Linked DNA regions of Homo sapiens. The protein of the gene in region 2 interacts with the protein of the main gene of each other region in a pairwise test. Each region holds a gene or a part of one and is shown on either strand. Other genes may lie near its edges.

Region 1 (4,856 bases), on a different chromosome or scaffold from region 2:
TTTAAAGCAGTTAACAAAAGAGCTTAGCAAATTCCCACCATGTCCCCCATCTCCCTTTTTTTTTTTTTTTTTTGAGACAGAGTCTCACTCTGTCGCCCAGGCTGGAGTGTAGTGGCACAACCTCAGCTGACTGCAACCTCCACCTTCCAGGTTCAAGAGATTCTCCTGCCTCAGCCTCCCGAGTAGCTGGGATTACAGGCACCTACCACCACACCCGGCTAATTTTTGTAGTAGAGACAGGGTTTCACCATGTTGGCCAGGCTGGTCTTGAACTCCTGACCTCAGGTGATTCACCCGCCTCGGCCTCCCAAAGTGCTGGGATTACAGGCGTGAGCCACCACGCCCCGCCCCATCTCCCTTTTTATGAAGTCTCCATAATACTTCCTCCTGTATACCCTAGTGCAGATCTACTTGTCCACATATTAGTCACTAGGCTTGAGACCATACTTATTCTAAATTGTCTCTTTGATTTTTTTTGTTGATATATAATAGTTGTACATATTTTGGGGGTACATGTGACATTTTGATATCTGTGCAGATGTGTAATGATCAGATCAGGGTAGCTGGCATATCTATTGCCTCAAACATTTTTCTTTTGTGTTAGGAACAGTACAATTCTTCTAGTTATTTTGAAATACACAATAAATTGTTAACTCTAATTTCCCTATTATACTAATGAATACTATAACACATTCCTTCTATCTAGCTGTATTTTTGTGCCCCTTCGCCAACTCCTCTTCATCCCTTGAACTTGATTCTTCATTAGAGACCCCGGCACTCTTCCAGGCCACACCTGCAAGTGAGGTGGGCAGCTCTGGGCCCTCCCTCTTCCTTCCTCACCTCTTAGCAGTGCCAGAACTTCCCCTGCCACAACCCAGATTCACACTTTCACCAGGGAAACAAGAGAAAGTACTGGGGGAATGGTTAACTTCAGAGACAGGCTGTTCTCTGGGGTTCGATTTTTTAAATTACGAGCCTTACTTCTATCTGTAGCTCATTTTTTCCAGGAAATGCTTTAGAGTCTGCATGTCATCTTTGGTTATGGCAATCTTACGTATAGGGGACGTAAGTGAAGCAGGATTACTGACCTCATCAAAGAGATAAGTCCTAAGAAAGATAAAGTTACACGGCCTGTCATAACCCAAGGGAGAGGGGACAGGGCAGCTGAGAAGAAAATCACAAACTTCCACTTGTGGTTTCCAGGAGAAGATCAGAGGAGCAGTTTCTCTCCAAACCTAAACTCTTGCTTCAAGAGTATTAAGTAGCCCACACTTATTGCATGGTGGTAGGAGGGACAGGTGGGTAACATTTTCTCCACAATTCCTCAAAAAAGGGTTATTTTCCAGTCTATAGTTCATCTTCTCATCTGCCATGTACATACAAAGAATGACTTAGGATCGAATTTAGGTCCACAGCAAGAAGAATACAACTGCTGAAAAGAGACACTTCGGTCCCCTCACATCTGCTAGAGAGGAAGGTTTCCCCATGCCCCAAAGTAACAAACTTGGCCTTTTCAAACTCTTCTGTATAATTAAACTTCCACGAAGGGCCATCTACTCCCTGCTCTTGAAAGTGAACATTCACCAGCCCACAGCAAACAGTGTCTGTTCTGTGGTCAGACAGACATGGAACTGCCTGTTAAACAAAAGCAGACTGGAGAATTGATGCTCTCTTTCAAGTCTCACCCCAGTCACAAATAATAAGCAACTGTATGAAGGAGCAGATCCCTGAATAGGTTCAAATACTTGAGCGCTGAGTAATAATGCTAGTTAGACTCACTGTACAGTACTTCCAGACTTAGGTTTTTTCCTTTTCTTTCATCTCTGGAAACTTATTCAGAACCACATTAGCTATTCCTTCAAAATTCTGCTGTAAGATGCAAAAGGCATTTGCTATTATCATATAATTGCACTTGGCTCATCTCTCCTATTGTTGAGGCTTGTATTCAATTAAAGTTAAAATAAGAGCTTTTTTGAGCACTGACTGAGTGACCCCAGCCCTGTGAACAACTCAATGGGACAGTGACAAGAGCACTGTGCAGGGAGTCAGCTGACTCGGGAGGCCTAGATTTTAGTTCAGATGGCACCACCAACTAGCCACACGAGCTTGAGCAAGGCCATTAACATCCCTGGCCGGGGGCCGGGGACAGTGGCTCACGCCTGTAATCCCAGCACTTTCAGAGGCCGAGGCAGGAGGATCAATTGAAGTCGGGAGTTTGAGTCCACCCTGGCCACCATGGTGAAACCCTGTCTCTACCAAAAATACAAAAATTGGCCAGGTGAGTGGTGCACAGCTGTAATCCCAGCTACTCAGGAGGCTGAGGCAGCAGAATTGCTTGAACCTGGGAGGCAGAGGTTGCAGTGAGCTGAGATCTCGGCATTGCACTCCAGCCTGGGTGACAGAGCGAGACTCTGTCTCAAAAACAAAAACAAAAACAAACCATCCCCTGGCCTCTGTATTCTCAACTGTATAATGTGGGCACAGAACCAGAAAATCTCTAGCCTCTTCCAGATCCATGTGTTATGGAGGATGTATAAAGGAGGAGGAGAACTAACTTTTTAACAGTATAAAGCACTACATTGGGCAATGTACATATCCCAACAACCCTAAGAGACACATTTTTATTACCACTTCAGATGAGTTAACAGGTTCATGATTAAGTAGCTTGAACAAGTTCAAGTTCAGGAACCAGGATTCATGGGTCTGTCTACTCCATTGTCTGTACTCTTCCCCTAGGAGAATTCACAGCATGGCAGTGAGGTAAAGCCCTTTTCTGAGCACCTTACAATCTCCTGAAGGGAAGTCAGCTTTACAGGTAAGAACCAAAGAACAACATAAGACAGAAGAAAATGTAAGTCAAAATCGAAAGACGTGGTGACTGGAACTACACTGTGGCAACACTAACACCATTGAGCACACTCACCAACTGGCACTCAGCAGGGCAATGCGTCCTTTTTGGGTCATTCAGGAAATGAAGTCGTTTTCCGTATATCTGACTCCCACATACAAAGGGAAAATACCCCCAGGGAGGCCATCAGGCCTCAAGAACTTGCAGATGCATTGGCTACCTCTTTTGTGTCTTCATGGGGGAGTACTTTTCATAAATCATTCATCCACGTAACTGAAGCTTAGCCTTTTAAAACTTAACATTATTCTTATGCCAACCATTTTTGTTAGATATCTTTCCAAAATACATTGCATTCTTTCTTCACTTCTTAAATCTCATAACATGAACTCTGTCTTTCACTTGGAAGTCACAATGATGAACACTAATATGTCATGTGAATCTTCAAAAGGAAGCTATGCTTTCTGAATTCTTGCCTGTTTTTTCTCATTTTTCCTCTGCTATGGTGTTAGAGGAACATGGACCTAGGATGGAACACTGATTCTGACTCTGGCTTGATCAGTTAGGAATGTGATCTCAGGCAAGCTCTTTAAACGCCACAAGACTCAGTTTCCTCATTTGCTTCATGACAAATTTGGATAATGCTCTCTGAATCCCCTCATATTATCTCCACAACACATCTCTCTCTTTCTCTGTTTCTTTCCCTACATTTGCTCTGAAGACTCTCTTCACTAGAGTCGTTCAAAATCAGAAATGTATAAAGTCAGATGGCCGAAATGCTCTCTTCATTCCAGGAAATTAGAACAGGCGAGTTGGGTCAAGCCATCGAGACAGGAGTCAAAAAAAGATGATTCCTTTTGTTATAGGGGAAAATGAGGGAATATCTGAAATAGATTCCTGGAAATCACATAATATTAAAGATGTACATGAGAGATGGTTTAAGAAAAACAAAAATTTGTGTTTATGGATTGTGTGAAAAGCTTTAAAAGGAAAAAAAAAAAAGTTGTATAAGGAGAAGCAACTGACCAGGAAGTAAAAAGCAGGCAAAGAAGGTGTCTAGCCCGAGGCCGGGCAGGATGACACAATCTCTCAGATTTCCAACCGCTTCATGAAGAAGCCATTAAGCACCGGAGGAAGCAAGAAAAACACAAGGAAAAGAAAGGCATCTGAGAAAAACAACAAGGGCCCAAAATGAAACCCATCAAAGACAAAATTTCACCAGAGGACATTAGAGACTGGGGTAAATATGGAAAACTTAGACATTCATTCCACAGTGGGTGGTGGCTTTGTGTGACCATCTGGTTGTCCCCGCTACTTGTGTAATGGCTAGGAAGACCCATCTTCAGAAGAGACCAGGAAGCAGAGGAAATTCAGAACCTCTGCAAGCACTTCTGCCAGCTCTATTCCTGCCTCTCATCTCGGCTTATGTAACAATCCACCAGCCACCCGTCACTTCAAGTTTCCTAATTTTCTTCGCAAAAATGGCTGCACTTTGGAATGCCCTCATAGAAAATACTTTGGAATTAGAGTCCCACAGTAGAGATTCTGGCCTTAGCTTTGCCACTTACAGCCTGCGAGGTCTTAGGCCAATACATCACTTAACCTCTCTGGGCTTCAGTTTCCTCATTTGTAGAATGGAGAGAAAAACTGCATCCATAGAGAGCTGTGAAGAGTAAATGAGATAATGTATATAATGTATATAAAACAGCACAAGGACCAGCATGCAGTAGCATTCAATAAATGATGCCGGTGATGATGATGGAGGAGGAAGAAGAAGAGGAGGAGGAAGAGGAAGAAGGAAAAGGAGAAGAAGAAAGTGTTTTGTAATAAATCACTATATAGCTGTAAGCTACAACTGGTTGTTGTAGAACAACGGCCACTAAAACAGCAGACGAACACCTTTAATTACAGAGAATTTACAAAGTTTCAGAAATGCAAGCATTCTACCGTTTCCTGTAAGCGAAATCCATAGGGCTGAGTGAGCAGTTATGCTCATCTGAGAGTCCACACT
Region 2 (4,856 bases):
TCAGTTGCTCATCGTAGATAAAACAGGGATAATGGTAACTAATTAATATAGTTGTGTTAATTAAATCAGTCAGTATATGTTCTTAAAACAGTGCTTGCCACACACAGTAACGCCAGTAATCCCTGCTACTTGGTTCTCCTGCTACTACTTCTGTTGCTGCTACTTGATCCTTACAGGATGTTTCTATACTTTACAAAACTCTTTGGTGTAACTTAAGTCTTCCCAATCCTCACAATAACACTGTTAAGATCAATAGGTTGGGTACTGAACTCAGGTTAGGTACTGAACTCATCAGGAGGCTGAGGTTGGAAAGTAGATTTGACAAGGTTAAGTAAAAGAAAGGCAAAGCTGGAACTCAAATCCAGATATTTTAATTCCTTGCTCAGTGTTTCCTTAAACCTGCCATAACTTTCCCAAGAACTGAGTACTCTGTACCTGGGAGTAGTTGGCAGATCCACTGGTTTCTGACTGGATGTGCTGGGCTGGCTGAATTGGGAGAAATTCACCTGTCTCTTCATCTAGTTGTAACTGAGCGAAAAAGGCTTTCTCTTGCTCCTTTTGGAGTTGTTCTTGTCTTTCCTTTTCAAGTTTTTTCTGTTTTTCCAGCTCATACTCTTTCCGTCGCTGACTGAAGTCAAATACTTCTCGACTTACTCCAAGATCTATATCTTGCCTCCAAAGTATGTCAATCAAATCCATGTCCTATGTTTAAGACAAAAAAAGGAAGGAGAGAGCTCATGTTTTTTAAATGACAGATACCACATAAATTAATTCACATTATGCCACTGTTGATGGTGGGAAGTGGGGAGATTACAAATACAATCTAAATGAGAACACAGATCCAATGTTCTAGAAGAGCACAGTTAATTCCATTCAATGAATCTATTCATTAAAGACAACAAACAACCTACAAACACATAGCCATCCATTCTAATCACTTGGATCATTAATGATAGGGTGATGGTAGAGGTCACTAAAGGGCAAAGTCACAAATGGTTTGAATGAGAAGAAATCCCACCCTTGTTTAATGGAATATAGAAATTAGAGCAAGCACTCTAAGCCACTGGCTTATATAAGAGAAGTGGGGTCTGGAAAACATTACTGAATACATGGAGTTTTCTTTAAACTTTGCTCAGCAAATATCCAGTTTATAGAGGGATAACTCTCAAGTTAAAGTGTCAATCTAGCAGTTGTGAAATATCACCATTCTTTCCATCTTTCCTACACTAGATTATCTTCTCCCCATCACTGCTTGCTACTCTTATCTCTGTGGCTTACCTATATGCCTGTAATCCCAGCACTTTGGGAGGCCAAGGTGGGTGGATCACCTGAGGTCTGGAGTTCGAGATCAGCCTGGCCAACATGGTGAAACCACGTCTCTACTAAAAATACAAAAATCAGCCGGGTGTGGTGGTACGTGCCTGTAATCCCAGCTACTCAGGAGGCTGAGGCAGGAGAATCGGCTTGAACCTGGGAGGCAGAGGTTGCAGTCAGCTGAGATCGCACCACTGCACTCCAGCCTGGGCAACAGAGCAAGACTCCATCTCAAAAAAAAATAAAATAAAAGCAGACAGGGACAGGTGCGGTGGCTCACGCCTACAAGCCCAGCACTTTGGGAGGCTGAGGCAGGTGGATTGCTTGAGCCCAGGAGTTCGCGACCAGCCTGGGCAACATGGAGAGACCCTGTTTCTACCAAAACAAAAACAAACAACAACAACAACAACTGGTGTGGTGGCGCACACCTGTGGTCCCAGCTACTCAGGAGGCTGAGGTAGGAGGATCACTTCAGTCCAGGAGGTCATGGCAGCAGTGAGCTATGATCGTGTCACTGCACTCCAGCCCGGGCAACAAAGTGAGACCCTGTCTCATAAATAAATAAATAAATAAATAAAACTATGGCTCCAGGGAAGGATTAAAGGTATTAAGTTTTAAGACATAGGAAGAATCTTACAAAGAGGGAATGGTTTTGATGAGGAGAGGCTGAGCTTGGTGACTCAGGCCTGTAATCCCAGGAGTTTGGGAGGCCAAGGCAGGAGGATTGCTGGAGCACAGGAGTTACTAGCCTGGGCACCATAGTGACACCTGTTTCTACCCAAAATCAAAACAAATTAGTTGCACGTGGTGATACGAGCCTGTAGTCCCAACTATTAGGGAGACTGAAGTGAGAGGATTGCTTGAGCCCAGGAAGTCAAGGCCATGGTGAGCTGTGATTGTACCACTGCACTCCAGCTTGGGTGACAAGACCCTGTTTCACACACACAAAAAGATACATGGGGAGAGAATTTATATGACTAGGCTAGGCATAGGAACCACATCCAGATTTTCCTAACCAAAAATGTGTCAATAGCAGTTTTTCTGATTTGTAATTTTAGTCTTTGGAAAAATCTAAATAGGTAGGAAATCTAAATCTGTTTCCATTCCACAAATCACCTATAGGGGAAATAATTAATTTGAGAATGGAAAAAAATCAAGATGGGGGAACGGGAGTTGGGACTTGAAGGCCAGTGGGTACAGTGTAGACACGTCACACTTTGCATTTCATTCTGCTGACAGCTGGCAACGCCAGACTTAGAGTTCTATTACTTTCAGCTTCCCAAGGACGCAAATAACATGGTGGTTGTTTCAGTGAGGAGTCAGGCTATTTTTATCCAACAGAGGAGCAGGCCACCCAGCCTGGAGGCAGCGCAGCTAGCTAGATGGCACAGGCCACCTGTGTCCATGATTGAAGGTTGGCGTTGGAATCTTAAATGCTATGAAACCCTGCTCATGGGGCTCATTATTCTAGCCTTGAACAATATATATTGTAAAGCACACAAAGTAGGCATAGTTAAAGTAGCACTTGTAGTTAGGTATACCTCACTAGGACATACCTAATTATCTTTAAGCCAGTATCTATTAAGGGCTTCCTATATGCTATGCACTGTTCTAAGTACTTTACATATAGAAACTATTCCTCAAAACAGCCTTATACAGAGAAAACATTCCTGTTATACAGTATAAGAATACTGAGGTTAAGAAAAAAGATACTACCAGAAAGTGGCTGAACAAAGACACATACCCAGGCAGCTTCAGTCGGGTTCATGCTTTATTAGCCATGAGCCTACACTATTATAAAATGGCATGGCATTTGCTGCAAATAACCTATGCATATCCCTTTATATACTTTAACTCATCCCTGGATTACTTACAATACCTAGTAAAGTGTAAATGCTGTGTAAATAGTTGTTATACTGTATTTTATGTGTGTATTGTTATTTTTTCGGGTTTTTTTTCCACTTTTTTCCTTTTGAAATTTTATTATTTATTTACTCATTTTGAGATAGGGTCTCACTCTGTCACCCAGGCTGGAGTGTGGTGATGCAATCATGGCTCACTGCAGCCTTCACCTGGGCTCAAGTGATCCTCCCACCTCAGCCTCCCAAGTAGCTGGGACTACAGGCACATGCCACCAAGCCCAGCTAATTACTTTTTGTAGAGATGGCGTCTTGCCATTTTGCCCAGGCTGGTCTTGAATTCCCGGGCTCCATTGATTTTCCTGCCTCAGCTTCCCAAAGTGCTAGGATTACAGGCATGAACCACTCCACTGTGCTTGGCCTTTTTCCAAATATTTTTGAACCAATCTGCCATTGGTTGCATCATGGAACCAGAGGCTGCATGGGCCGACTGTATATACACTTGGCTTTGGAATCTTGGTAGTATGAAGCGGCCAGTCTGCAGGTCAGATTAAGTCTGTAGGTCACCTAGATCAGTTTCCTGGCCAAGAGCAACAAAATAGCAACCACAGAGCATTCAGTCGACTATACATGGCTATCTTCTCAGGGGGATTCCCACTAAAATAGGTATGAGAATAATTTCTATTTTAAAAAATGATTTGTTTCCATTCTGATGGACATGTTTACCCAAAGGTTATCATGGGAGACAGAAAATTCAAAGGTATAGAGAAACCTACTTTATTTTATTTTTTTTTGAGACGGAGTCTCGCTCTGTCGCCCAGGCTGGAGTGCAGTGGCACAATCTCAGCTCACTGCAACTTCCGCCTCCAGGGTTCAAGCAGTTCTCTCACCTCAGCCTCCTGAATAGCTGGGATTACAGGTGCGTGCCACCATGCCCGGCTAATTTTTCTATTTTTAGTAGAGACAGGATTTCGCCATGTTGGCCAGGCTGGTCTCGAACCCCTGACCTCAAGTGATCTGCCTGCCTCGGCCTCCCAAAGTGCTGGGATTACAGGTGTGAGCCACCACGCCCAGCTGAGAAACCTACTTTAAAATTCTGATTAGCTTGGGCCGCTTCTTCTCAGTAAATCTAGATACATAGCAGGGTATCCTGTCTAGACTTTCTGCAAACTGGAGCTATCTGCCCAAGCAAGGTATTAAGTGTTCAATATGTTCCCATCTTCTAGGTACTAGCACCAAAAATGAAAGGAATGCATGATCCTGCGATCTTAATTGAACTCTGTAAAATAGGCAGTCCATGTTCCCACCCATCTCAAGAAGTGATGTGCAAAGTGTGCAAAGCTCTTTGCAAAGTCAATCAAAGAAACTCAAATACTTGTCCCTGTACGTGGGGAAAAGTGTACTTTGACACATCCCTGCCTCACCCTAGACTTCCTGGGCCTGAGGTTTTTTCTTGTTAAGGAGATCCCAGGATAAAAATCAGTAAAAGGTTGTGACTTTTTCATGCAACTGAAGCAATTTAGGTTGCAAACATCTTCTGCTCATAAATCTGACTTGCAAAGTATCCTTACAACCAACCCTCATGAGCTGGAAGAAAATATTGAATGGAATTTATAATTGTCAGTGTCAATCATGCCAAGAATTGAAATAACTATTTAATTTCCTTTCCCCCCCTTTTCCTTC
Region 3 (5,486 bases), on a different chromosome or scaffold from region 2:
AAAAATACAAAAATTAGCTGGGCATGGTGGCACACACCTGTAATCCCCACTCAGAGGCTGAGACAGGAGAATTGCTTGAACCAGGGAGTCAGAGGTTGCAGTGAGCCAAGATCGCACCATTGCACTACAACCTGGTGACAGAGCAAGACTCCGTCTCAAAGAAAAAAAAAAAAAGAAGGTTGATATTTTAGACATCAATGGAATGGGGACTGTTTAAAAGGGAATACCTTACACAGATCACCTGAGGTCAGGAGTTCCAGACCAGCCTGGCCAACATGATGAAACCCTGTCTCTGTTAAAAAAAAAAAAAAATGCAAAAAGTTGGCCAGGTGCAGTGCTCATGCCTGTAATCTCAGCACTCTGGGAGGCCGAGGTGGGCGGATCACTTGAGGCCAGGAGTTCGAGACCAGCCTGGCCAACATGGCAAAACCCTGTCAGCCTGGCCAACATGGCAGGCTCTAATAAACCCTATCTCTAAGAAAAATACAAAAATTAATCGGTTGTGGTGGCATGCACCTGTAATCCCAGCTACTCAGGAGGCTGACGCAGGAGAATCACTTGAACCCGGGAGGCGGAGTTTATAGTGAGCCAAGACTGCACCACTGCATCAAGCCTGGGCGACTGAGCAAGACCCTGTCTCAAAAAAAAATTAGCCGGACATGGTGGCCCATGCCTGTAATCACACCTACTCGGGAGACTGGGGCTGGAGAATCGCTTAAATCCAGGAGGTAGAGATTGCAGTGAGCTGAGATCGTGCCACTGCACTCCAGCCTGGGGGACAGAGAGAGACTCCATCTCAAAAAAAAAAAAAAAAAACTAATGCCCTACAAATCTTACTATGGCAAAACTGGAAGAGTCTACAATGTTACCCAGCATTCTGTTGGCATTGTTGTAAACAAAAAAGGGAAAGATTCTTGCCAAGAGAATTAATGTGTATATTGAGCATATTAAGTACTCTTAAGAGCTGACAGCTTCCAGAAACGTGTGAAGGAAAATGATCAGAAAAAAAAGCCAGTGAGACCCTCATCTCTGCAAAAAATTAGCTAGGAATGGATGTGCATTCCTGTAGTCCCAGCCACTTGGGAGGCTGAGGTGGAGGATTGCTTTGAGCCCAGGAGTTCGAGGCTGCAGTGAGTTGTGATCACACCAACGCACCCCAGCCTGGGCAACAGTGCAAGACCCTATTTCAAAAAAAAAAAAAAAAAAGGAAACTAAATAAGAAAGGTACCTGGGTTCAATTGAAGCACCAGCCTACTCCACCAGTGGAAAACAGCCTGAGCTACTAGAACTTATTCCCTATGAATTCGTGGCATAATAGGGGTAAAAAAGACAAAAGGTGTAAAAACGTTTATCTTCATTGAGTAGAAGTGTGATGTCCTGGCCGGGCGCAGTGGCTCACACCTGTATTCCTAGCACTTTGGGAGGCTGAGGTGGGCGGATCACCTGAGGTCACTCGAGTTTGAGACCAGCCTGATCAACATGGTGAAACCCTGTCTCTACGAAAAATAAAAATTTAGCTGGATGTGGTGGCACACGCCTGTAGTCCCAGCTACTCAGGAGGCTGAGGCAGGAGAATTGCTTGAACCCAAGAGCAATTCTCGGCAGTGAGCCGAGATCGTGCCACTGTACTCCAGCCTGGGCGATACAGCGGAGACTCCGTCTCAAAAAAAAAAAAAAAAAAAAGAAAAAAAAGAAAAAAGAAAGAAGTGTGATGTCCCCTCCCCAAAGAAATATTCAAAGCAAAAAAAAAAAAAAATTACTTGCTGATTTTTCTGGAAAACTTTTAGAACGCTACCCTTCTGTCTTGGAAATACCACTTCCCCAATATCATACCCCACGAATGTTACTATAGTAAAACTGAAGAGTCTACAATGTTATCCCGCATTCTGTTGCATTGTTGTAAACAAACAAGGGCAAGATTCTTGTCAAGGGAATTAATGTGTGTACTGAGCATATTAAGCACTCTTATGAGCTGATAGCTTCCTGAAACTCGCCCCCCTTCTGTCTTGGAAATACCACTTCCTATTAAGAGGGGTTTACTACTTCACAAGCAATCCGTTCCTCTAGGTGAGTAACAATTCCAGAGTACTGCACTGGGCTTTCCCTTCCATCTGTCACTTCCTCACAGCCTTCTACATGAAGAGGAAGAGAAAACAAGAAGGAAAGAATAAAACAAGGAACACAGAGAAGTTGGAAATTTTTTGAATCTCTCTGAGGATATGTGAAACAAAAACTGCAGCAGCAGCAAAAAAAGACACCCAAACAAAGGACAAAGCTATCGTAAAGAGTATGCCAAAGACTGTGAAACAGAAGACGCTGAGAAGCACAAAGAAGGACGGTTTTTACTTTAAAAACTGGCAAATTTTAGAAGTCTGATTCCTTAAAATAAAAAAGTCCAAATCCAAAACAACCTGAAACATCAATAAACAAATCTTTGACCATCCCTATCTTCAGGAAATAAAACTAAACAACACTAATGTGGGTAGATGTAAAGAGAGAAAGGCGGCCAGGCGCGGTGGCTCACGCCTGTAATCCCAGCACTTTGGGAGGCCGAGGCGAGCGGACACCTAAGATTGGGAGTTCGAGACCAGCCTGACCAACATGGAGAAACCCCATCTCTACCAAAAATACAAAATTAGCCGGGCATGGTGGTGCATGCCTGTAATCCCAGCTGCTCGGGAGGCTGAGGCAGGAGAATCGCTTGAACCCGGGAGGCGGAGGTTGTGGTGAGCCGAGATCGCGCCATTGCACTCCAGCCTGGGCGACAAGAGCGAAACTCCGTCTCAATTAATAAATAAAGACAAAAAGGCTATACATAGATAAACTATTTGGATTAACCAATAATGAACATTATCTATTATTTTATAATCATAAAGTAAGTGATTTGGACAGGGAAATTGGATGGTGATGGGCTATTAAAGTTAACAAGAGGAAAATCAGTATTTTTTTAGAGAAGGCTTTCTAGTGGAGGTTAAACTCCACACTGGCCAAATAGCAACAGGAGCTTAGCGGTGTTCCAACCAACCACAGGAAATAGCTCAGAGGGGGAGTGAACTGATTATATGAATGGGGCATTGAGTAAGGGAGCCTGAGAGAAGGGGAATCGTCAAGGGGAATAAGGCTGGTTCAGCGTGCACTAAAGTCTCCAAACTGGAGAGAGGAGGCAGCAAAAAAGTGCAAGAAGAAAAAGTACAGTAGTTTCTTATCTCGACAGGCAAGTTAAGGACTAGGGGTTGCACTACCTGGAAAGCTAGCAAACGCCCTGGGAGTGAAAAATTTCCAGAGAGGGCCCTTCCTGGAAAAACGCAGCCCCGGTGTTCCCTGATTTCCTGGCTGGGTACCATCGGGCAGTGGACTGGAGAGGCGCAGGGATGTTTTAGGCAGGTGTCTCTTGGGTGTTGGCGTGGACTACATAGCGGAGGTTCAGCCGCGGGACTAGCATTGAGCGACAAGAAGGCGGCGGCGCGTGCAAACCACAAGACTTACCTTACTGTCATCCATCGCGGCAGACAGGCCGGCCTGGCCAGGCACTCCCTCCCGGAGCCCTCCCCCGGCTCAGCCGGCCTGGCCCGGCCCCCGCCCCGAGGAAGAAGGGGATATGGTTCTGGCTGCCTCCTCCTCTCGCCTAACAGTTCGCTTCCCTGATGCCAGAGTCACGGGGACGAGGGACCAGTTCAGGAATGGCAGAGCGGACCCTGGAGGCGGCCCCAAACGCCTCCCTTCGCCGCCGCCGCCTCCTCCTCCCCCTCCATGACAGTCTCTGGGTGTTTACAGACGCTCTGGAGAGCCGCCGAGACCGGAGGGTGGGCGGGAGCGCTGCACACGGAATGGCCCCTTCGGCTGCCGTAGCACCGCGGCATTCTGGGAATTGTGATTTTTCTTATCACAGTCTCTGCGCTACTGACTGGAAAAAAAACTACGATGTCCACATAGCCTCATTAAGGGGCAGCTGTTTTCCTTTTGCCTACTAGCTAGCGCTGAGGAGGCGGGGCTGGGCTGGAGGCCCAAAGTGCGCCTGACCTGAGGTTTTGGCTCCTAAGTGCCAGGGCCTGGAATGGCGGGGACGGGAGTTTGGTGCTCTGCGGAGGCAGCCCTGAAGGCGGGGTGCCGGAAGCAGGCCCTCCTCTGGGACGCTGAGGAAACCCTAAAGGTTCTTTATTTAAAAAAAAACGAAAAACAAAAACTAAGTATGTAAAATAGTGCAGCTACTTTGGGAAGAAATTTGGCAGTTCTTCAGAATATTGGCCACTCCCATACCCAAGAGAAATTAAAACGAGTGACTACACAAAAACTTGTATATAAATGTTCTTTCCTAGCAGCATTATTCATAATAGTCAAAAAGTGGAAACAACGCAAATGTCCTTTACTGGATGAATGGATAAACCAGTGTGGACTATACAAATTAAGAAATACTGGCCAGGGGTGGTGGGTCACGCCTGTAATCCCAGCACGTTGGGAGGCCGAGGCGGGAGGATTGCTTTAGCCCAAGAGTTCGAGACCAGCCTGGGCAACATAGCAAAACCTGTCTCTACAAAAAAATACAAAAATTAGTCGAGTGTGGTGGCACATGCCTGTAATCCCAGTTACTGGGGAGGCTGACATGAGAGGATCACTTGGGCCTGGGAGGCAGAGGCTGCAATAAGCCAAGATTGTACCACTGCACTCCAGCCTGGGCGACAGAGCCAGACACTGTATTTAAAAAAAAAAAAAAGAAGAAGAAGAATGAAAGAAGGAAGAAGAACGATGAAGGAAGAAGAAGGAGAAGAAGGAAGAAGAAAGAAGAAGGAAGAAGACCCATATAGTAAGATGCAGTCTCTACAAAAAAAATTAAAAATTAGTTGGGTGTGTTACAAAAAATTTAAAAATTACTTGGGTGTGGTGGTGGTGCTTGTAGTCCTAGCCACTCGGGAGGCCCAGGTGGGAGGATCGTTTGAGCCCTGGAGTTGGAGGCTGAAGTGAGCTGTGATCACGGCACTCCAGCCTGGGCAACAGAGCAAGACTCTGTCTCAAAAAAAAAGGAAAGAAATATTATTCAGCAATGAAAAAAAATGAAGGGATATACACACTTCAATATGTCTGAACCTTGAAAACTTTATGTGAAGTGAAAAAAGCCAGACACAATAGGCCACATATTGTATGATTCCATTTATAATGAAGTGTCTGGAACAGGCACATCTAAATAGACCAAAAAATCCATTAGTGGTTGCCAAGGGCTAGGGTTGAAGAATGGCAGGGATGGAGGGATCCTGGAAAGGAGAGTGACGGTTAATGAGTACTGGGTTTCTTTTTGAGGTGATGAAAATGATCTAAAATTCAGCCGGGCATGGTGGCTCACGCCTGTAATCCCAGCACTTTGGGAGGCCGAGGTGGGCTGATCACCTGAGGTCAGGAGTTCGAGACCAGCCTGACCAACATGGAGAAACCCATCTCTACTAAAAATACAAAGTTGGCCAGGCCTGGGAGAGCATACCTGTAATCCCAGCTAC
Region 4 (5,490 bases), on a different chromosome or scaffold from region 2:
GTACCCCAAGTCTGGGCCACAAAGAGTGAAACTCCGTCACAAAAAAACAAAAACAAAAACAGAATAGGCTGTAGGATTAGCATCTGCAGGAGAGAGACTACAAGGAGGGAAATGGAGTCTCTGACCTTTCCTGATACCTTAGCTTAGAAAGGGCTGAGATCTTCAGGCCAAGAACTTCTGTGTTCCCCTGTCCTGTTCCCTCCAGTTATGCTTCTCCACAGCAACCCAGCCCAGGGAGGAGTCCCATTTTTGCCACTTGCTGTTTGATGTGTGACCTTAGCCATGTTACTTAACCTCTCTGAGCCTTGGTATCCTCCACTGTACATAAGGATAAAGATGTTTCTTTGGTGAAGATTAGAAATAACTTTTTTTTTTTTATGAGAAGGAGTTTCGCTCTTGTTGCCCAGACTGGAGTGCAATGGCGCGGTCTCAGCTCACCACAACCTTCGCCTCCCGTGTTCAAGCGATTCTCCTGCCTCAGCCTCCCAAGTAGCTGGGATTACAGGCATGCGCTACCATGCCCGGCTAATTTTGTTTTAGTAGAGACAGGGTTTCTCCATGTTGGTCAGGCTTGTCTTGAACTCCCGACCTCAGGTGATCCATCCACCTTGGCCTCCCAAAGTGCTGGGATTACAGGCATAAGCCACAGGGCCTGGCCAGAGATAACATTTGAAAGTGTCTTTACAGCCATGCGCAGTGGGATCACGCCTGTATCCTAGCACTTTGGGAGTCCGAGGCGGGCAAATCACCTGAGGTCAGGAGTTTGAGACCAGTCTGACCAACATGGTGAAACCCCGTCTCTACTAAAAATACAAAAAATCAGTCAGGAATAGTGGTGCATGCCTGTAATCCCAGCTACTTGGGAGGCTGAGGCAGGAGAATTGCTTGAACCTTGGAGGCGGAGGTTTGTAATGAGACGAGACTGTACCACTACACTCCAGCCTGGACAACGAGGGCGAAAGTCTGTCTCGAAAGAAAAAAAAAGTGTCTTTACAGTGTTCCTGGCACACTGTAGGCATCATTGTTACTGTGGGCTCACTGAAAGTATGAACTGATTTATTTCCAGATCTCAAGGGCCCAACAAGGGGTAGGCAGACGGTGGACTATGGGAAAATATATATACTAACTGTAGAATATTGGATTTGCAAACAGATTCAGGTTAGGTTTATTAGAAAGGGCCTGGAGCTGTCTTTTCAGGACCCTTTTCAGAGCAACCATTTCAAGAGACCTTTATTCCTGAATAAGCAGAAAAGACTGAAGGCAGGTTTTCTGGGAGGAAGGAGAGGGGTGGAGTTGAAGAAGAAAGACTGCTCCTATTCAAAGGAAAACTAATCAATTAGTGGGGACTGGATCTACCCAATTGTCTCAGTCACAAAGTTACACATGTGGATATCCAAGAGAGGGCAATTAAAAAAAGAGAAGAGAGCAATGTGACAAGGTTGGAAGGAAATCAAAGTGACAGGGAGGCTAATCAGGGAAGTGGGAGATAAAATCATGACAAGCTCATGATGGGTTTTCAAAATTGAGGGAGACAATTTTGAACTCTGGATTTATAAGTGAAAAGGAGAAATCAAATATGATTAAGTTGGAAATAAACCAGCCACACATGGACTCCCAGACCAAATAGCAGCTTGTTGGTCCAATAAAAATGAACACACCCAGTGAGTTAAGAAGGTGGAGGTTTTGACAAACAACTTGGTCATGGCTTTCTAATACAAATTAATCTGAATTCCTGCAACTGCTTTCTATACCAGGCTTTGGTTTAAAACCAACTGAGAAGTAAGAAAGTCAAGCCTTGGTGGGCTGGGTGGGCCAGATGGCCTTCCTGCTCTCCTCCCTTGAGATCTGGACTCCTCACTCTGTTCAGAAATGACTGTGACCCATGTCGGGTGGGGTCATTTGGGATCAAAGGAGGCAGGAGAAGGCAGGAGATAGAAAAGCAGCCATAGTGAAAGACAGGCAACAATAAGTTCCAGGTTTTGCCTGGCCTAAGCAATAAAGGATACTTTAAATCAGTGTTTTTGTAAGGTGGAATTTTAAATTGTAAGAGATAAAGGACTAGTCCATCACTCAGGTCATGCAACAGTGGCTGCCAGCATGATACAGTAGAAAGAGCACCAAACTGAGGGTCAAAAGTTATAGCTGTGTGACCTTGAGGAAGCACCCTCACCTCCCTGAGCCTCAATTTTCCTCATCTGGGAAGAGGGGAGAATACCCTCTAGGACTGTTAATGAAATAAGATGATGTCAGCGTGCTTTGCGAGCACTCTACGAATATCGGGTAGAATTCTTGTTATGGATGGTTATTACCTGGTAATTTCAAACAAGAAACTGTCAGATGTGTACACCTGTCCCTGCAGCTTGTCTCAGCCCCAGATTTGGAACAAAGCACCGTCTCAAAAACAAACAAAAGGGTTTGTGCACATGAGGTCCCAAAGCAGGAGGAGAGAGGCTGGCCTCACCTGATGTGCTGAAGCTATTTATAACTCAACAGTGACAGCCACAGGGATGGGAGCCTCAGCATACACCCAGGAAAGGAAGAGAAATGGCATTTTAAAAAGGAAAATCCATTCCCCAGGCCAGACAACTCTCGAAGGCCTATCCCTTTCCCAAACCCTGAATAACTGATGGCTCTTGGAAATGCAAAGGTCTCACACTCAAAGTATACCTCAGTGCACCCACAACCCCACCACAGGCGGCCCTCCTGCTGCTCCCTGCACCCCATCTCCCAGGGCGAAAAACAAGGCCAGACCTGCTTTCCGTATACGCCCCAGTGACGTTCCTGGCCTAGGCAAAAAGATGAAGCTCAGTCCTGCCGCCGTGGCCCCAGAATCTAAGGGTCAGCCCCAACCAACCAGGCGAAGGGCCTCAGTGGACTCATCTGACCCTCATCGTTTCTCTGCTTGGCCCAAAACTCCCCTCCCAAGGCGCCTCACACTACTCGCCCACACCCCCCCCACCCGCTCAGCAGAAGCCCCGCAACAGAAAGGCTCCCGTTGGACCTAGTAGCTGGCGCTACTCACACCCAGGGAGGAAGCCAGGTCCCTCCGGGAGGGGTAAGGCCACGTACGATGACAGTTCGCTACCCTAGGCCTGCGCTTCCTAAACTTTGGTGTACTTGGAAAATAATGGGGGTGCGGTGGGGTGCTCCTTAAAATGCAAGACCCCTGTCCCAGTGACCGCAGATTGGGTGGGGCGCAGGAACCAGCAATTTAAACAGGCATCCCGAGTGACTCCGATGCAGGTGGCCCCGGGGGAGGGGCCCTGGAGCGTCATTTAAGTGACTGCTCCCGATCCCCTTCCGCCTCCTCAAAACCTCTCCCCACCCTCTCCCGCCAGACCCACCGTCTCAGCCCGCCCCTGACCCTCTGTCCTCAGCCCCCCGGCCTCGTCCTCCAGGCTCCTGGTCATCCAGGCCCCATCCCCCTCCGCTGGACCACTGCTCCCTGACCCACTGCCTCCCCGGCCCCGCCCTCACGAGGCCCCGCCCCTGTATAAGCCCCGCCCCCAGCCCGCGCGGACCACCCCCCCGCCCTCACCGAGGCGCGCCTCGCGCGGGGGGTTCTCCATCAGCTTCTTCAGGACCAGGGGGAAGGACCCCGACAGGCCCCTTTCCCCAGCTGCGCGCCCCGGCCCCGGACCGGGTCCTGCCTGCGGGTCCACAGGCGGCTTCTTTCCGCCGCCCGCGTCGGACATCGTGCCCCGGACTCGGCTCGCGCACCTCGCCTCCCCCGCCCGCCCCCCGAGATGGGCCGGAGCCGTGCGACCCGCTGCAGCTGCCGACACGGGCAGCTACTGCGCAGGCGCCCAATGGCGCCCCCGCCTCCTTCCATCGCTACCCCGCCTGCGGACCGGCTCTGGCACATTAATTATTCATGAGGCCAGGCCAGCTTCCCCGGATCGTTGCTCTGGATTGGTCCAGCCTGCGAGAGGGGCAGGCGCAGATCCTCGGGCCGTGATTGGTCGGGCAGCCGGGATAAGATAGACACGTGCGGGGCCAGGTGAGGACCCTCGCGGAGGCCCCGCCCCGCCGCCCCTGTGTCCCCTGATTGGCGCCTGCTGGAGTCTTTGTGGTGGGCCTTCCTCGGCGCGGTCCCTTCCCTCCTACCAGTGTTCCCCCTTCACCGCCCTCTTCATAACCCCCGCCCTCCCCAACCACCGCAGCCTCTCCCTCTTGTCCCCGACTTGCAACCTTCCCGACGCGCCACCGAAGAGGGGCGGAGCTCGGAGCGGCCAGGCCGGCCAAAGCGACCTATCCGAGCTCCTGCTCGCGCGGCGTGTCCACCCCCCGCGGGTCACGTGGAGCCGCAGCCGAGTCTGGTCGCGGGGGGAGGGGGCAGAGGAGGAAGGCGCGGGAACAGCCAATGGAGGGCGGGGGCGGGGCCCGGGGCGGTGCACGAGGCGCCGCACGTGCGGGGCTGTGGCGGGGCGGGAGGGGAAGGGAGGGACGGGTCTTTTTGTTCTGGGGACTCTGCCCAGGGTCGCGGGGCAGGGACGCTGAGCTTAGCCCGCACTTCTGCTCCCACGCGACCCAGAGGTCGCCTGAGGGCAGGGCCGGGGACCGCGACCTGCCAAGTCGTAGGGATGGCCTGAGCAGGCTTGGCCGCCCTAGAGCGGGGTGTCGGGTTGCCCACGCATCCAGATCAACACTAGCGTGGAGGGAGCATTCCTGAAGCTCTGACCTGAGCCAGGGCCCGAGTACATGTTTCCGCCCTCCCACTTACTAGCTTATGACCTTGGGAAAGTCCGGTTGCTTCACTGGAGCTTGTTTCCTCGGCCATAAAATTAAGAGGTTGGGCTAGAGAATCTCCACAGTCCCAAACAGATGTGAAATTCTTTTCCTTTCTAGAACTCTCCCTTCTTTTACCTAGAAAACAAAAACCTCCTTGACACCAGGTACCGATGCCACGTTTTGTGGGAGAACCACCTCCTCTCTTAAAATATAAAGCCTCCCCGGGAGTTCCGCAGAAATCCGTAAAAATGTAATATGTGGCGCGGTACACAAATGGAAAGCTGCTCCTAAACAGCGCTCAGAACTTTGTACCTCTTTATAGTACAGATCAGACTCCGCTGCAAACCCAGGCAACATTAGACTCCCCGCTTAACTCCCGGAAGGCAGAGAGCTTGGCTTGTTTATCCAGCATCCCTACAGTGGCCCAGCCCTTCTAGCAGGAGGGGTTGGGGGGGTGGTATAGTGATAGTCCTTGGTTCAGGGGGTAGATGCATGATCCAGACACCCACAGCCAGCTAAAAGTTATCAAGCTGATGCAATCAGAATTTTGCTGGGGCTGGGCTTGGTGACTCACGCCTGTAATCCCGGCACTTTGGGAGGCAGAGGTGGCGGATCACCTGAGGTCAGGAGTTCGAGACCAGCCTGGCCAACAGGGCGAAACTCCGACACTACTGTAAGTACAGAAATAATTAGACGGGCATGGTGGCTGGCGCCTGTAATCCCAGGTACTGGGGAAGCTGAGGCACGAGAATCGGTTTG

The links.
Region 1: the proteins of NFE2L2 (region 2) and ETV6 interact in binary tests that used the Homo sapiens proteins (3 or more experiments, as listed by UniProt).
Region 3: the proteins of NFE2L2 (region 2) and CREBL2 interact in binary tests that used the Homo sapiens proteins (3 or more experiments, as listed by UniProt).
Region 4: the proteins of NFE2L2 (region 2) and TEF interact in binary tests that used the Homo sapiens proteins (3 or more experiments, as listed by UniProt).

The regions. Positions count from the first base shown.
Region 1 is NC_000012.12:11,655,816-11,660,671, reverse strand, and holds part of ETV6 (transcription factor ETV6), read right to left. Parts: intron 1-4,856. UniProt on the Homo sapiens protein: Transcriptional repressor; binds to the DNA sequence 5'-CCGGAAGT-3'. Plays a role in hematopoiesis and malignant transformation.
Region 2 is NC_000002.12:177,233,570-177,238,425, forward strand, and holds part of NFE2L2 (nuclear factor erythroid 2-related factor 2), read right to left. Parts: intron 703-4,856; coding exon 436-702; intron 1-435.
Region 3 is NC_000012.12:12,610,188-12,615,673, reverse strand, and holds the start of CREBL2 (cAMP-responsive element-binding protein-like 2), read right to left. Parts: upstream 3,799-5,486; 5' UTR 3,502-3,798; coding exon 3,487-3,501; intron 1-3,486. UniProt on the Homo sapiens protein: Probable regulator of CREB1 transcriptional activity which is involved in adipose cells differentiation. May also play a regulatory role in the cell cycle.
Region 4 is NC_000022.11:41,380,250-41,385,739, reverse strand, and holds the start of TEF (thyrotroph embryonic factor), read right to left. Parts: upstream 3,799-5,490; 5' UTR 3,696-3,798; coding exon 3,539-3,695; intron 1-3,538. UniProt on the Homo sapiens protein: Transcription factor that binds to and transactivates the TSHB promoter. Binds to a minimal DNA-binding sequence 5'-[TC][AG][AG]TTA[TC][AG]-3'.